2 separate regions of the Homo sapiens genome follow, and region 2 is linked to region 1. Evidence: fine-mapped expression QTL. A gene starts in region 1. The other region holds a variant in brackets. All regions are shown on one strand. Distances are from middle to middle.

What was found.
Region 2: its variant is fine-mapped to the expression of IFNGR1 in whole blood (TOPMed, PIP 0.98).

What each region holds. Positions count from the first base shown.
Region 1 is chr6:137,218,314-137,221,237 of GRCh38, reverse strand. It overlaps IFNGR1 (interferon gamma receptor 1), which reads left to right and starts at 1,853. Exons shown (of 7, transcript NM_000416.3): 1 at 1,853-1,995. The coding sequence starts at 1,911. RefSeq lists enhancers at 1,383-1,632, 1,483-2,213 and silencers at 1,673-1,902, 1,943-2,162, 2,623-2,672.
Region 2 is chr6:137,194,791-137,197,714 of GRCh38, reverse strand. IFNGR1 (interferon gamma receptor 1) reads left to right here. Exons shown (of 7, transcript NM_000416.3): 7 at 1-230. Among named protein-coding and RNA genes, the nearest start is that of IL22RA2, 23 kb to the right of the region's middle. The variant T/A (reference allele first, on the strand shown) is at 1,361.

The sequences.
Region 1 (2,924 bases):
GTCTTCAGAAGGATACGTAGGGTGGTGGGTGCTGTGATTGTGAAACTTGCCCAGATCCCTCTCAGGAACAGAAGACTGGGTTCTGTCCCCTTCCTGATGCTAGGAGGGCTGCCAGTAGACACCCTCAACCGTCAGCGTTCCTCTGGGGAATGCCTCCATGAAAGAAATGGACAGCCCCAAAATCATGACAGTTGGTATTCAATGACTAATCAGTGCTGGGCTTTAAGACCCAGCCCCTCATACCAACTCAAGACACCTTTACAAGGCCATCCCAACTCCAGAGCGCCCCTTGGGAGCCTTTACTGGGATGGCATCACAGATCAACTTCTTCCTCCGCTCTGCTTCCTCCACCTCCCCTTCACAGACGTTTATTCCAAGAGCACTCCCTAATCAATCAATGCCTTATACCTTAATCTCGACCTCAGAGTTTACTGCCAGGGTAACCCAGCCTGTGACAAGTACCACAAAAATGTTTACAAACTGGATATCATATTTTGTCCTACTCCATAGACGCCTAAACGGTAAAGATCAGTTATTTATCCTTGCATCCTTACAACGACTAGAAGGTGTCTTTCATATAGTGGACATCAGAAACACATCAAAGGAAATATTCTCCCTAAACTTAGTCTAGATTGAGCTAAATTCTTCTGATTCAAAGTGTGGTCCTGTTGAAAGGGGCACCAGCATCCCCTGTGCATTTTGTCCGAAATACAAAATCTCAAGACCCAACCTGAATTAGAACTACTGAATCCAAATCTGCATTTTATCAAGATCCCCAGATGGTTCACATGTATGTTGAAGTTTGAGAAGTACTGAGCTAAGAGATTTATTAATACAAGTAAAATGATCTGGCTGATAATACCTCTAGTTTATATAGTGTCTTTATAAGGATTTTCCCTCTTTAAAAATTTTCCTTAACACTAGTAATCATGCAGTCTTTCACTCAACAAATACTAATTGAGTGCCAAGTAAAGATGTCAGCTCTACGGAGCTTACATTTTAGAAGGAGAAGAAAACAAATATCAAGGTGTATATTATAGTGTACAGCAAGGTGAAAAGTGCCATGAAAAAACAGTAGGGCGGGGTAAGGAGGAGGAGAAGGTGTGTTGCAATTTAAAATTTTTAACAAAAGTTCATGATACTCAGAGAATTGAAACAGGTGAGATCATTAGACATTCGCATGTTTGAGCACAAGCGCTGAAGGACTTAGCAATGTGGCTGCAGTGGAATAGGAGAGATGCAAAATAACAGACAAACCCAGAGAGGTAAGAGAGCAGACCTCTTCATGAGAGGCTGCCTGATAAACTGATTTGACACTGAATTGCTGAGAAGGTAATGCAAATAGTTTTTTTCTCCAAGAACAAAGTAGTTCTTGGTCAAGCCGATTTGATTTGGGCTGTGGGAATCTGCACAAACCATTTCACTAGCTAAGTCTCAGGTTCCTCAAATGAAAAAGCAGGGACTGGAAATGGCTTTTGAAGTCTCATTCTCTTCTAAAAATGTCAGGCTCCAAGACAACCAGGTGAAGTCCAAGAGTTAGTAAAATAAGGATTGTGGCTCGGCTGTGGCCTAATGCAAACTTGCACAACCCCAGGAAACCGAAAAAAACTGGAAGAAGAATTGCAGAATGGGGTGCCAGGTTGAAAGACCTTAACCTTTGCACTCAAATTCCTCCCACACCCAGAAGTCCAGGTCCCGACCGCACGACGCCGTGCTCACTGCTGGGTGCTGCGCCTGAGTCCGCCTCCTGCGGCTTCCCGGACTTGACCCCGCCCACGCCCTGGTCCCGCCTCCTGCCGACGCCGGCACAGACCCCGGTGACGGAAGTGACGTAAGGCCGGGGCTGGAGGGCAGTGCTGGGCTGGTCCCGCAGGCGCTCGGGGTTGGAGCCAGCGACCGTCGGTAGCAGCATGGCTCTCCTCTTTCTCCTACCCCTTGTCATGCAGGGTGTGAGCAGGGCTGAGATGGGCACCGCGGATCTGGGGCCGTCCTCAGGTACCGTCGTTCGCGGCAGGGCTGCGGCCGGGTCGGGACGAGAGGGAGGGAGGGATCCGCCCCAGCCGGGAAGCCCCGCCCCGCTTCTCCGAGGTCGCCCTAGCCCGGGACCCCTGCGTCGGGCCCTGAGCGGGCGACGGGGACGCGAGGTGGGGTCGCGAGACTGGGGCTCCGTGGTTTGAACTCGTCGGTTGCCTTTCTCCTGCCTCTTCCCTGGTTGCCGCCACAACAAATCACGCCGCTTGTTTTTCCGACTCTTGTAATCCACTTTTAAATACGATTATGCGCTGCAGAAGGACGTTGCTGGTCAATGTGGGACAGCGTGGTCTCAAAGATTATAATATCGTCTTCTTACTGTACCTTTTTTTATGGTTAGATACGCAGATACTCACTAGTATGCTACGGTTGCCTGCAGTGTTCAGTGCAGTGACAGGCTGTACAGGTTCATGACCTAAGAGCAGTAGGCTGTGTCATCTGGGTTTGTCTGGGTTTCTACTGCCCGAAGAAATTGCCTAAGGGGACATTTCTCCATTTCTCAGAACGGATCTCCATCGTTAAGTGACGCATGACTGTGAGTGTCCTGATCAGCATGTGGCATCGTGGTCTCAGTTCGTGGCTTAAATACTTCTTTCTTAGCGGGGGTGGGGGGGGGGACTCAAAGTGCTTAGGGTAGGAAAGTATGCATTATGTCGCCAGCTGAGAAGTAAGTGGCAGCTGAGAAGTAAGTGGCAGTCCGTCTTAGGTCTCAGTCTGGAAGTGGTGGATTGCCGGCACTCACTAGCAGATTTGGCAGTAGGTCTCTTCGTACGGGTTTGTTCTTCGGAGCATTTTATTTCCACCTGCTTATTGACATTTCCTAGAAAACAAATGTTGAGGGTGGCTTTTCTGAAGTGCAGAGTAATTGTGATTACGAGCTCCAGAGAAAACAG
Region 2 (2,924 bases), 24 kb after region 1:
GTAGCCACTTCACTTTTTTTCTTTTCTCTGCCTTGGTATAGCATATGTTTTTGTAAGTTTATGCATACAGTAATTTTAAGTAATTTCAGAAGAAATTCTGCAAGCTTTTCAAAATTGGACTTAAAATCTAATTCAAACTAATAGAATTAATGGAATATGTAAATAGAAACGTGTATATTTTTTATGAAACATTACAGTTAGAGATTTTTAAATAAAGAATTTTAAAACTCGTTTTTGTATTCATTTATTCAAGCACTTAGGCAGTCTTTCATAGTTAAGCAGAATATTTTTATATCCACTGCTTGTTTCCATGCATTAATGCTATAGGATTATTTGCTAATTGTTCATATTTAATATTTAAAACAACCCTAAAAATAATATTTTTAAATGGTCCTTATAGGTCTATATTTCAGTGCTTAACACCCAGTGTGCAGAACACTGTTCTAAGTGGTTTGAGAAGAAAAGATTTAGCTGTAGAGCATGTGGATTGAGGAATCTAGCATAAAGGTGGTGGGCAGAGCCATGGAAATGGATGGAACCTTGAGAATTACATGGTGTGGAAAGAATCCCCAGTGAGAGGCAAACCAAGAGTTAATATATATGTTACCCAAGGATTTCTTGGAATTACTAAGAGGATAGAAATATTCAGAAATTAATATGAATCTGTGAATTAATGGACCAAAAAAAATGAAATACAATTTACATGAGTAGCAAATCACATTTCTTTGGTTTCTGGAAAGATATTTCTCTTCACTTAAAAATGCAAATTACAAATGAGATACTATCAGTGAAAAAAGTAGTGGTGTGGTTTGCAGTGGAACTGGTATAGTCACTGATTTTAGGGTAATGTCTTGTAAATTGCTTTTCAAACTGATACCCCATACATATCACATTCCACAAAAGTAATATCCTTCAACAGACTTTGATCTCTCTTGTGGGAAAATTACAAAAAAAAAAAAAAAACTACATGAACAATGCACACATTAGAATGGGAAAAGCAAAAATATGAAAATAATTGAAATAGCCAAGGAAGAGGTAATACTTACTACCCTCCAAAATGATTATACCAATGTGTACTCCCATCAAATGTGAATGAAGTACCTGTTTTTACACCCTAGCTAATTGACTGAAATAAGTCTTTAATCTCGGTAAAACACTTTACACATTAAATGCATTTGCATTTCTTTAGTAAATTTGAGCATGTTTTTATATCTTATTTATAGTTTCATGCCAACTCATCTTGTTCTTTGTCCATTTTTTTATGGGCTGTTTATATCTTTCTTACTACCCTTTATCTGCCCTGAGTTACAGATTTATTTTATAATTTCCTGCCTTTTGACTTACCACACAGATGTTTAAG[T/A]TGTTTATAAAGTCAAATTTATTTATTTCCTTCTATTTTTAAAAAGCCCTTCCCCTTTCCCCAAAAGATAGAAGTTTTCACTCATGTTTTCTTCTGGTCTTTGGTGATGATTGTTTTACATTTAATTCTTCTATCCATCTAGATTTTTTTCCTTTGAGGACAGAGATAGAGATCCAGCTTTATTTTTTTGTTTTAGTTTCCTGTGGCTGCCGTAATAAATTACCACAAACTTGGGTGGCTTAAAACAACAGAAATTTGTTATCTCACAGTTCAGAGGCTAGAGGTCTGAAATCAAGGTTTCAATAGGGCCAGATTCTATCTGAAAGCTCTAGGGGTGGAGGGCCCCTTCCTAGTTTCTAGTGATTGTTGTCAATCCTTGATATTCTCTGACTTATGGCTGCATTATTCCAATTTCTGCCTCTTGTCACCTGGCATTCTTCTCTGTATGTCTGTGTCCAGATCTTTATAAGGACACCAGTCAATTGGATTGATTAGTCCCACTCTAATCCAGTATGACCTCCTCTTAACTTGATTACATCTGTAAAGACACTTTCCAGTTAAGATCACATTCATAGGTACCAGGGGTTAGGACTTCAACACATCTTTTTGAGGATACAACTCAACTCATATATTTCCCTTAACAAATTAGTTATCCCAAATACTATTCATTAAATTATCTAACTTTTCTATGCTGATTTCAAATGTCACATTTATCACATGCCAAATTCTCAGCACTCCTGGAACAGTTTTGTTGTTCAGTCTTTTCCCGTCTATGTATCACACTTTTAATACACATTATACTGGGATATATTTTATGTTTTTTTGAGACAGAGTCTAGCTTTGTCACCCAGGCTGGAGTGCGGTGGCACGAACATGGCTTACTGCAGCCTCAACCTCTTGTAATCAAGCAACACTCCTGCCTCAGCCCCCCAAGTAGCTAGTACAGACGCTCATGACCATACCTGGCTAATGTTCTGTATTTTTTTGTAGAGACAGGGTTTTGCCATGTTGCTCAGGCTGGCTTCAAATGCCTGTGCTCAAGCAATCTGCCTACCTCAACCTCCCAAAGTGCTGCAATTACAGGCTGTTTTGACTTCTGAGGCTTTCCTGAATACTTTCAGCCAATGTTCATTGCTCATATTTCTTAGCAATAATTATTTATTTATTTACTTACTGTATTTTTAGTAGAGACAGGGTTTCACCATGTTAGCCAGGATGGTCTCGATCTCCTGACCTCATGATCTGCCTGCCTCGGCCTCCCAAAGTGCTGGGATTACAGGTGTGAGACACTGCGCCCTGCCAGCAATAATTATTTTTTAGGTGAACTATAACCTAAATTTTTTGGCCAAGTTTTCCCCCAAATTTTAAACTCCTTTGGGATTTATGTTGGCATTGTTTTGACTTTATAAAATGTTTAGAAATAACTAATATTTTCAAGGGTTGAATGTTCTGCAAGAATGGAGACTATTTCTGTCTTCAAGTCTTACATCCCTCATTAGAGGTTTACTTCATACAGGTGTAGAAAATTTACTAAGTGTATTCCTTGATATTTTATGTTTTTTGT